Homo sapiens: one gene and its partners. The protein of the gene in region 2 interacts with the protein of the main gene of each other region in a biochemical or structural test. Each region holds a gene or a part of one and is shown on either strand. Other genes may lie near its edges.

The links.
Region 1: the proteins of PBX1 (region 2) and PDX1 form a complex in vitro, tested with the Homo sapiens proteins (one study listed by BioGRID).
Region 3: the proteins of PBX1 (region 2) and MEIS2 form a complex in vitro, tested with the Homo sapiens proteins (one study listed by BioGRID).

Annotation. Positions count from the first base shown.
Region 1 is NC_000013.11:27,918,502-27,922,928, reverse strand, and holds the start of PDX1 (pancreas/duodenum homeobox protein 1), read right to left. Parts: upstream 2,930-4,427; 5' UTR 2,791-2,929; coding exon 2,385-2,790; intron 1-2,384. UniProt on the Homo sapiens protein: Activates insulin, somatostatin, glucokinase, islet amyloid polypeptide and glucose transporter type 2 gene transcription. Particularly involved in glucose-dependent regulation of insulin gene transcription.
Region 2 is NC_000001.11:164,562,128-164,565,774, reverse strand, and holds part of PBX1 (pre-B-cell leukemia transcription factor 1), read right to left. Parts: intron 2,538-3,647; coding exon 2,464-2,537; intron 1-2,463. UniProt on the Homo sapiens protein: Transcription factor which binds the DNA sequence 5'-TGATTGAT-3' as part of a heterodimer with HOX proteins such as HOXA1, HOXA5, HOXB7 and HOXB8. Binds to the DNA sequence 5'-TGATTGAC-3' in complex with a nuclear factor which is not a class I HOX protein.
Region 3 is NC_000015.10:36,897,945-36,901,591, forward strand, and holds part of MEIS2 (homeobox protein Meis2), read right to left. Parts: intron 1-3,647. UniProt on the Homo sapiens protein: Involved in transcriptional regulation. Binds to HOX or PBX proteins to form dimers, or to a DNA-bound dimer of PBX and HOX proteins and thought to have a role in stabilization of the homeoprotein-DNA complex.

The DNA of each region.
Region 1 (4,427 bases), on a different chromosome or scaffold from region 2:
GTTCTACTCCCTGGGGGCATCCCCGAATCTACCTGGCATCCCACGCCTGGGAGAGAAGCGAGACGGGCCTTCAATAAACATTTTGAAAGGCTCTCCAAAGTTTTTACATTAAACCGACATGTCTCTGGGTTCCTGCCTTAGGCTGCGGGCTTCGTATAGTCCCTGCGAGAGGGCTTCGTGAAGTCCCTGCGAGAGACTGCTCAGGGAGAGACTTCCTGGGGTGCACTATTCCCGGGGGACCTGTGCTCAGCGCGACGCGGCAGGGGTGGAGGTTGAGGATGGTGGGAAAAGGTCAAGGTCGCCAAGCCTGGGCCCTTCCCCAAGGCGCAGAGTGATGCAGTTTAGGTGCCAGCTGGACAGCGCTGCTGAAGCATTTGGGGGTCAATGTTTTTCAAAACCTCTGTTGTCATTAGCATTCAGATTCGTACTGCCAGTGAGAGCCCTTTTGTCACTTCGCTCTTCCCAGGGGCAGGTGGGTTTGCAATTTTTGAATTTCGGCTCCATCGAAGTTTCCCCTAGAGGAACGCGGGGATAGCAGCCGGCCCCGCAGACGGCTTCCAGGGGAAGAGAGGGGAGGTCGTCTCCTTCCCCGAGAGTCGAGCATGCAGCGGGTTAGAGGGCGCCAGCAAAGGCCTGGGGCCAACTCCAGCCCGAGAGTGTCGCCCTCCTTGGGTCCCCGAACCCTCGCCAAGGCTGCTGATTTGCCTTCTGGTTTTACTTTCTGGCTTCTTGGGTCAGCCTAAGCCCAAGTCCTCCAGAGCAGAGGTATCACCCCTTGGGTTGGGATAGGGAAGTTACTCCACCTCACAAATCCTCTTTCGGGACCCTGATGTCGCCCATTTCCTGAGGAAGGCCCAGGGTGGGAAAGCAGGAGCTCCGAGGGCCTAGGAGGCCAGAAGAGAGGTCTGGAGGGGAGGCAGCCCTGGAAGAAAACTGGGTGAGGACGAGGAGCCCCCCACCTTTGTTCGAGGGACTGTCCTCCCGCCTCCTAAGAACCCCGCATTTCCGGAGACTTCAAGGCCTTTGGCCCGGGCTGCGCGAGCTGGATAAATTTGCAGAGGCGCCGCGGCAGCTTCTGGCGCCCCTGTCAACTGGGTTTCGCTGGAGGTGGGGACGATTGCAGCGCAGTTCAGCCCTCGTCCTGCCTCAGGACCTTCGCCTTAGCAAGAAAGTGAACTAGGAAGAAGAGAGTCCCGTGGACCCCAGGCAAGCTGGGGTCCCCCTCCCTCTCCCGCACAAAGCCCCTCCTGGCTGCGCCTGGGGTCAGTGTCAGGCAGGGCTGGCCAGACCCCGCAGATGGGCGCTGAGGATTTTCGGGGTGGGCCGGGGGACGCCGGCTCGAGCTGCTTCCCCCTACTCCCGGCTGCCAGTTGAAAGGAAAAGGCAACTATTTGCGGTGCAGGTGTGACCAGAAGTGGCTGAGGCACGGCAGCGATGACAGTGAGTAGCGGCGACGACACAGGCCGCGCCGGAACTTGCCGCTCGCGCGGGGCCGCAAAGGACCCGGGGGCTACCCCGTGCCTCCGGCTCCCGGCTCCGGGAAAGACCTTCTGTTCTCTGCCGGCGCGGAGGGCCGCAGGAACCAGGCCTCTCGCCTCCCCACCAGCTAGGCAGGGAGCGCCCATCTCCTGAAAAATTACTTCCTGGGAAGCGGTGCGGGGAGACAGCTTCAATTGCTTTCGGTTGGTGAAAAACGAATTCGCTTCTCAGATTGCTCTCCTAGCTGCCAGGCTCTGACGTTGAGAGGCCGGCTTTCAGCCTCGCGGTGAGCCCCCGCCTTGCCCCAGCCCCTTCCTCTTTACTCCTATCCTGTTTCCACAACCAGGGCAGCCGGACACTGCTGGGTTGGGTGCAGTTTCCTTTCCCTCCCTGCCTTTCTGCACCTACCTGGCGCCCCTAGATGCCTGCCCTTCCTTAACGAAGCGCGGGAAGTGAGGGGCTCCGGGGCTCCGAAGGCGATCTGGGGCCTGGGTCCGAGGCACCCATGTCCCTACTCGGCTTCCTCGATGTGCACTACCAAGGAGTCCTGGGTTCCCGGATCCCCTGCTGGAGGAGGATCTGTAGTGTCCGAAGCCCTGAGCAGGACTCAGCCTCGGCTCTCTAAGGATGGCGCTGGGAGCGCGGGCTCCTGGGGCGAAGATGGGCTCAGCGAACAGGGAAGGAAGGAGTGTACACTCCCAGGAGAGCTGGGTGGGAAAGATGCTTCAAACTGGACTAGAGAAGCACTGCTGTGAGGGATGGGCTCGGTAGCTCCCTGATGTAGTTTAGTCCGACCCGGGATAATCCAAGGCGCCGGGAACAGAGAGAAGGCTCCTGGGAGCGCTTGGAGGTAAGGCGGCCGGGTGAGAACCGGAAAGGAGAAAGGGGTGGGGAGCCAGGCTTACCTGCCCACTGGCCTTTCCACGCGTGAGCTTTGGTAGACTTCATCCATGGGAAAGGCAGCTGGACGCGGTTGGGCTCCTCCAGGACGCCCGGCTCGGCTCCCTCCGGGAAGGGCCCGGCGGGCGGGTGGGGGAGCGCGAGCTGAGCCGGGAGGTGGTGGTGAAGGTGCGCCACCGCGGGGTCGTCGGCGAGGGGGGGCACCTCGTACGGGGAGATGTCCGGGGGGCTGCCCTGCTCCAGCGCGCCCAGGGCGCCAGGGAACGGGTGCGGCGGCGGCGGCGGGGGCTGGCGGCCCATGTACAGGCACGCAGGGGGGCTGGCGCTGAACTCCGGCGCCGGGCCTCGCTGGAACGCGCATGGGTCCTTGTAAAGCTGCGTGGCCGCGTAGTACTGCTCCTCGCCGTTCATGGCTGCGGCCCGGGATTGGGCACCGGGAGCCGGGAGCCGGGAGCCGGGAGTCGGGAGCTGGAGCCGGGGATTTGGCACTGTGTGGCGTTCCCACTCCCGGCGCCACCCCTGCTCGCTTTGACAGCTCCGCACTGATCTCAGAGGGAACCCACAGCCAGCGCGGACCGGCGGGCCGGCCGCCGCACCATAGGCTCCGCGGGGCCCCACGTGGTTCAGCCGGGGGCCGTGATTGGCCTGGCTGGCCGCACTAAGAGGCTAGGCCCAGGTACCCGCGAGCACCTGCTTTTGTTCCAATTTTCTCTCTCAGCTGAGTTTGCTGCACACTCCTGAACGGGCAGCTGGCGGTGCTCCCCAAAATGGGCGCTCACGAAAACATTAGAACCACTCATTTATAGAAACATTTTCACCGTGGCTTAAAAGTTTCTATTTTCCTATATTTTTCTATTTTCTATTTTCCTATATTTTTTCTATTATATTTGATAATGGACATAGTGTGTTTGTTAATTGATGTAGTTTACAAGGAGACATGTTGAGTTTTTAATTTTTTATTTAACTGTTGCGGAATACGATAAAAAAAAAGTTTGCAGACCCAGCTCTCTAGGTCAGAAGCATTTGATTCTATTTTATTTATGAAGTTTGTTCACAGCCACAAAGATGTCGGTTAAAAAACACACGAAACTCTGGCATTCGTTGTGTGTTTTTACTTGTGGATGTGCTGCAAGTACTTCTGGGGTGTAAACGGTAACTTCTGAAGCATTCACAGAGACTTTTTTAAATTCTTTTTTTTAAAAAATTGAAGGGTATTACAAATTTGGGTTTTGGAAAATTGGGGCCCATTTGGCCAGCCCGGAACGTAGCTTCCCAATACAGCGAGGGGGAAAGACGCGGCCTTCCTCTTGGGGCTGCGAAGCAGGGGCAGGTGTTGGCACGGGGGTTCCAGACCCTTGACGACTCTCTACGGGCCGGGACCCTGGCGGAGTTTGCCGGCAGAGAACACTCACTCTCTTCTGCTTGCAATTGAAATAAGGCAAGCAGGAGAGGGGGAAGTGGAGGAAGAGTTACATATTTAGAAAAAGAAATAAAAACGCTGCATTTTCCATGATAACATCTGTGCTTGGCTTCAAACCATTCAGTAACTTCTGGGCATTCTGGGGTCCTGACTTAAACAGGGCCACTTTTTCTGCACCCACTGACGCGGATGGATGACCTCCGGGTGGCGGTGACGTCCAACCCCCTGCCTGGGCATGATCCGCTAGGCCTGGCGGCCTGACCAGCCTCTGACTGGATACTCCCGAAATGAGGACGTTTCTCGAAACGCCACCGTGGGTTTTAGAAAAACTAGACAGCTTTGCAGAAACGTCTCAGCAAGAGAGAGCTTGAACCACAAAGAACCAAGCCAGAGAAAAATCACTGCTCCGCCTTTCCTAAACAACGCACCAACATCCAGACCTTTGAGAGTCAATCTTAATGTATTTCTTTCTTCCTACTGGAAATATTTGTGTTTTAAGTGCGGATTGAGTGCTCTATTCTGAGGACTCTTTATTTTTATTAAAAGACAAAAAAGCCAGTCGGGAATGTGGACTTCTCTGCAGATTCCTTCTCTTGCGGGAGGCCGGTATAGTCTCAGCATTTGCTTC
Region 2 (3,647 bases):
AGAAGAGGGGGAAAAAAAAAAAAAAGCTCCTGCAACTTTACAGACACTTTGTTCCTCCGACCCATCAACTGCATGAAAGATATGCTGGCAAAAAGATTGAAGGTTCCAGGGTCTTGAGTAGCCAAGTAATCGTGCTTTAGAATCAAAGGGTTCTTTTCAGCAGACCACAGTTGACTCCTACCTTTAACACAACACTCAACATTCCAGGAGAGGTTTTTGCCTTCCCTTCAATCCTTCCAACACACAAGTTGAAGACTAAGAGGGAGGTAAGCCTTTTTTTTCCCCTACTTTCACCCAGGGGTGCCCTCTTAATCCAAGACTTGTGTGTGTGTGTGTGTGTGTGTGTGTGTGTCCCTTAACACAGGGGGCAATGACTCTTATCACTTTCAATTACATTATTTGTAAATTGTTTTTTTAAATATGTTATTCTAGAGACAACACAAAAAACCTTAATTTAGATTTTTTTAAGTCTCTAAACATTAAATGTATTGACACAAAATTTAAAATACAAAACTTTTAGAATGTTACTTTGACCAATACGACTGACTACTTTACTTCCTATCATTATACTTGAGCCAACATGAACAAGGAGCGAACTCTTTAACCCTCACCTGAACCGGATCTCTATTCACACCCACCCACTTTAATCTACTGCCTCAGTAGGTTTTAATTAGGAAACTAGAATTAAGCACTTTGGCCACAATGTACATTTAAGTGCCCTGACAGGCTTCCTTTCAATAAAAATCTGATAAAGTATCTTCAAAAATAGACTCTCTTTAGTCCATATTATCACATATGCTTTTATATTTTGATTCTACATTTCATGAAACAAGATCAGCAGGAACTCATACTTGGTTAGAAACAAATCTCAACAAACCAAACACTCAAAGTAAATAAGCATCAGAGATCAAAGAAGAAAAAAGAGAGAAGATAAAAAAATATATATAAATATATATATACACACACACTTAAGTTTCCTACTCTGGGCTAATAGAAAAAAGAAACTAAAAAGTGTGACAAACTGGAAAAAACTCTTTTGATATTTGAATGCACAGTCCATAAATCTTTTAAAAGTTGTCTCACAGCTAAAATAATGCAATTAACAGGTTTGCAATAAGGTTAAGCTTTGGCAAGGCAACCTGGAAGACTTAGAGGTCTGAACATCACTTCTCAGGTGCTTTGTCTAGAATGTTATGCACAACACAAATAACATTCAACAAAGGAGCTGCGTACTAATTTTACACGCATTTCAAGACCCAAGTAATTACATATTCATTCAACAGTCACATCTTGAAACTATTTTTTTAAAAGAAAAACACAGAGAGCTCTCAAAAAGAAAGCCACCCTGTGTGCCCTCTCCCCCCGCCCATTTTTTATGTGTAACTATCAATGTATATCAACCAAGCATGCAATCATATTTATTGTCACTTTCATTCATGTCATGCCCTTGCTTATATGGTTTAGATATGAATTATTGACTGTTACACTCCTTGTTGTAAAAAATAAATAAATAAATAGGATGTCAGGTACTTTGCACTGCTCTAAAGCGAGCGGGTAAGTCAGAGCCCAGCAGAAGCTCCCGCTTTATATAACCACCCCTTGTCCCTCATCTTTATTCCCTGGTTTCAGATTGCCTTCTCAAATCTTTCTTCTTACAAGGGAGAGCTTTACCCACTTTGGAAAATTAAGGATTAAAATAAACAAGGGGATGTCGCTAAATGTCCTTCCCAGAGCATCTGTTGTTTAAGAACACCTCTGATTGATGACTGCTATTTTTTAATTGTTGCTTTAAAATTTAAATGCCCTCCTGGGATGTGTTATAAGTGTGTTAGTCCACGAAACGAGGTCTAGAAAGTAGAAAAACAACAGAGTGAATTATCTCATGGCGTTATACTCTCCTAAACCCAACGATTCTCCCTGCAATAAAATCACAGGCCACTCAAATACCGATAACCTAATGTTGTATAGCGCATTCCACAAAGGTATTTGACAACACTCTCTGTTGAGAACCTCTAGTCTGCTGCTTTGTGTAATTACAAGAAAAAAAGGAAAGGAAACTTTCAACAGTTTAGCACCCCCACACCCAACTCCAAAAAAATTAGGGTTTTAAAAATGGGCCAAAATATATTCCTTAAAAAAATGAACTTTTACTTTCATATTTTTGCCCCAAAGATACATCAGTCTATAAATTTCCTTTCAGAATCTATATTTTAGCCCCAATCTCAAAAAGGCTGGAAATAGAGTTCTGGAAAATTAACCAGTAGTGCTTGATAATAACTGTCAAAGAAACTTGATTCTTTTTTTTAAGGAAAGCAGGGCTAGGACTTCCTATTCGAATATGAGGTCAACCTTCATAGTACTTGTATTCTGAAATTTTAATATTTAAATAATAGATTTGTGACTGCTGGTTAAGTGATTTAATTGGCCAAAGAAAATGCTAAAATGTTGGAATCTCATTCCTACCTGTTTTTTCTTTGATTTCACACAACACATTAAACAAGGCAGGCTTCATTCTGTGGCAGTTTAAAGCATGTTTTCTGCAAGAAAGAAACAACATGATAGCTTAGGTGGACTCTCAAGATCAAACTGCCGATAATGCACAGGGTGAAAACATTTGAACATTTAGACAAAATTATATACCCAACCCTAACTCTGTGGCATGCTTCAGTTGTTTTCATGACTTAATATACAGAGTCCCGCCATAGAAAAAGAAATAATGTTAATTAGCAGGGAGAGGGTAGGGATTTAACTACAGAACAGAACTAACCTAAATTATGCCCATTTAGGGAAAGGGTTTTTTTTTTTTTTTAAGTAGTTTAATCAAAGAGTAATTCTTAAACCCACAATTCTTCCCAGGACAATGAACACAGCAAAGCCAAAGGTGTAGGTTAACAGTTTTGTAAAATCCATGCAACGACCACAGCCTAGGAACTGTCTGCCTCTCGGTCTGTGTGTTTTCAAATTTAATTCATCCATGTGTTCGAATTCATTCCGCAGATGCCCCTGTATTCTCATAAACACAAGATGCTTGAAAGGTCTTCTGAGTAGAACTGTCAATTTATAACATTTCAGTCCCCAAGTTAAAGAGTATGGAAATGCATTGCCAGGGGGCAAACATACCCATATGGGGAATAAATTCATTTCTCTGTGTTCACATTATGCTTCTGTGCACACACTGCTTATTTGCAGGTGTTGAAATTCAATTATTTACAATTAGGACCTTGCACCCATTGGGGGAAAAATAAATGCAATTTTGTCTTTTAGATTAGTGATTTACCTGGTGTGTGTGTGTGTGTGTGTGTGTGTGTGTGTGTGTGTGTGTATTCTGAATGCACTTGAGGAACAAAACAATACCTTTCCTTCTATTTTATTATGGAACCACTTAGCAGAATGATACTGTTTTGGAAACAAAATACTGATCATATCAGCTATTAGTTAAGTGAATTCTGTCTACTAACTAAAATTAATGTGTAAAGATAAATGGAAAGTTCTGGCACTCAAAACACATGCAATTCTTTTTTAATCCCTTTGAAAGTTAAAAAATAGACACATCCTCATGAAGAACAGAGATCAGAAACATGCCCTATGTACTGTACAGCAGGGGAGTAATAAAGTCAAAATTCAGGACTATCAAAATGAACACATAC
Region 3 (3,647 bases), on a different chromosome or scaffold from region 2:
GGAGGACAGTCAGGCCCCACTCGGTCGGGCCTCCTGTGAGCACTCTGGTGGGAATACAATTAAGCTGAGGAATAATAGCTGGGAGAAAACCAAAGGAGTCTTTTGCATATGGTGTTTGTTTGCAAAACAATGGACTTCTTTATTACTTAAGAAAGTGTAGCTCAGTTGTCAAAAAAGAAAGTGATCAGCTATGTAGAGGTGAAAACAAAAGGAGAGTTGAAACTGCATCTTTCTTCCCACCTGTCACCTGAAATGTTGCTGAGGAATGAATATCTGACTAGATCACAAAGACTTCCAGAAGCATCCCTCCTCCAATCAGAAAAAGAACTTAATTATCTACTCTTTCCCCACCACTTTTACAGCAACCAAGGAGGACTGACCTGATATTTCCACCCCAGGAACCGTTTTTATCAGCTCACCTTGAAACCAGCAGAGATGCTCAGGAGGGTCAGAGAAGGCTCTTCTCCTTGAAGTTTCTAATAGAGGACAACACTCGGCAGGGGTTTTACCCCCTTTTATGTGCTACTAATCCTGGTTTTTGTGTTTTGCGTTTTTTATTTTTATTTTTTTTTCGGTATAGGCTAACTCTTCGGGTAAAACGAATTGCTATTTTTTTCCCTTTTTAATTTCACTCTTTTATTCTTTACATCTGGAGGTTGTTCCCTTATTTATGTCTTTCTCTCCAGTTCCCCCAAACACTCCCTTACTCACAGAGCTGCAAGGCATCATGGTTCTTAGTTCTCAGCAGGAGAACTCCACACTGTCTTCAAACAAATACTTACGGGGAAGGTTAGAGGTTCACTCAAAGGTCATTTCTTTGGATACTAGTCAGAATGTTTACATTAGTAAAAACGAGGTCCGCTCAAAAGGTTGTTCAATGGGGGACACACAACAATGCAGAACATTAAAAAAGCATTCTGTGAGCTAGCAGGTCTTTATAGAAGCACTGAACTTGGAAATGCCACTCCAGTATAACATTTTCAACTAGTTACCATGGCATGGACTGGATGTTCACTAGCAGTTATGGCAATGGCCTTTCTTTACCCACTTCTCCTAAGCAAATATGAATAGAAGCCTCTGAAGGTTTTCACTAGGTCCTTTTAAAAAGGGTCACAGAGATTTTGCTTTTTTCACTTGGGCACCATTTAGCCTCTCTGGATTTTTGTTCTCAAACAATGTTTTTGATCCATAGTGCTATTTCTTGACAGATTCATAATTCTACCACATTCTTTCAAATCACACAGAATTTTAAAAACATATGGGCCCCAAATTTTCAGAAATCTCTTAACATGCAACTCCTGCCAATTGTCAATTCCCCTGATCTTGGGATATTTTATTGACATCATAGATATTACTATGAAAATTAACAATTAATGAGCTGACTGTAAGAAAACCCTGACATTAAAAAATGAAATTACCGCCTCCTACCAGTACTGATGACTCAGAGGCCACTCTTAGAAAATACACTGACATACATAACATGGAGCCATTTAAATTATAGACTAAAACAAATCAAACTAGAAATAATTTTTATTTATTTAATATTTGTAAGATGAAATTTCCATATATGGTCTTTTCTCAAAATTACATGAAATAAATTTTTTTCCACATCTTCTAATCTATATTTTTTAGAATGACCTTTTTCAATGCTCAAGTAGTAAATAGAATATCAAGCTTTGATTTTACGTAAAATTTGAAGAAGCTAAGTTGAAAATCAACTCATCTTCAGTCTTTCAAGGTTCAGGCTCCATTCATATGGAAAAATGTAACTTGCTGGTTCAAAGACAAAAGACTTGTCTTAAAAAGACTCAAAAGGTTCCATGGATATTAAATGGGCCTTATAAAATAACATTTTGATGAGTTAAGTGTAAATGAATCAGACACATATGGATTAAGTTATCCTTGAATTTCACACGGGTTTAAAAAATAAGGGGAAAAGAGGGTCTTGGCAAAAAACATTTTGGACTTTGCCAAACCCAAAACATTTGAAAAATTGCTGAAGACATCCAACTAACCAAAATGCAGCAAGCTGCACCCAACTTTAATGAAAACCCCCACAAGTTATTTCCAATCCAAAGACTGTTAGATTTTTCATCTGTATCTGATATTAAAAAATTCTCTAAGTTTTAATGTCATACCAGAATGATTTCGAAGTTGCAGGCATATAATCTACTTTTCTATCGGTTTAAACAATTTAAGTTACAAAGTCTTCTTCAATATTAAACAGTTCTTAAAAAACATTCTGAGTTTTTTTACAACTTGTCCATAAAATGTACCAGTAAGCTTAGTGTCTAGCTCTATCTAGATTTCACTTAGAAAAAAAATTTTCATTAGCCTCATTGTGACTTTTTTTAAAGGGCTACACATAATTTCATTAGTGAGTCCTTAGGGAATGAATACCCTAAAGAGCCCTAGTTCCATTGATTTGTATTGAACACAAAGTTAGTATCCAGGCCCATACAAAAGCTTGGGAGAGTATCTACTAAGACTATCTACTTTTTCTCTAAATTTTACTTAAGTAGAAAATGCATGAGTATGTGTGATCCTTAAAAATTATATACTAAGACTGTTAGTTTAAAAATAACTTAATTATAGAAATAAATTCAATGATGTTCCAAGAATCACGAGGCCTTTCTGACTCAACTCAGAGATGAAAAAATACATTAAAACAAATAAACCCAAGGTAGCAAATATCACTGTAATCTCATCTTACTGCCTTGCTGAAGAGCTATTTCCCAGAGACCTCTCCTGTCCTCAGAAAGTCTAAACTTGGTAGCTTTGCATACTTTTCTACAACTGAACTCTGACCATCATGATTTTTCTTTAAAGACTTTTTACTCCGAAGTATGGTTCAGATTGATAGAAGTAGATTTAGGTGTCATTCCTGTTTGTTGTTGGTTTCTTTTCTTTATTCCTTTCTTTCTCCACCCCCCAATCTTTTTAAATGGCGGATAAATCCCTTCTTTCTGGTTCACTAACTTCATGCCACACCTGGTAACCAACTCCTTTTGGAGGCATTCCTTTTGTTAGAAAGTGCAGGCCTCCATGGAGTTACCTGGAAAGCTGCCATCCCTGAACACTCTGAGGAGGAATCAAGAATAGCTGGAATTGAAGATTCTGCATGGATTGCTTTGCGCAGGGAAGGGGACTGAACCGTTGAAGAGAGATCAGATCAACTGGGGAAAGGCGTAGGTAGCTCAGTGACCGGGGACCTGTTAAAACATGAAAAGGCCCTGCTTCCCTACTGTCCCCAGCCCTGGGACCCATCAGCCACAGTGCTTATTCACAGCACTTGCTCCTGGCTGGTGTTTCAAATGATGAAACTTCAGCCTTGGCAAGTCACTTATCAAATTTCTCCATGTTTTCTTACTTTACAAAAAAAGCAAGTATTTCTCTGTGCTATGGTTACAGCTGAGAGTAGGATTTTCTCAGTAAGATACATTAAAATGGTTAAATCAGTGAATAAGGCAAGCTTAATGCCTTTGAAGATGAACTTGGGCACGCAAATGATGGAGTCATGTCGCAGACATAAGTTTTCCACTGGTGACCAGACAATGGCTCCTTTCTCACAGACAACCGTGAGCAAAGTAAGGTAAATGAATGAGATTCATATGTTACTTAGGGACAGACTCATGGATCATAATGAA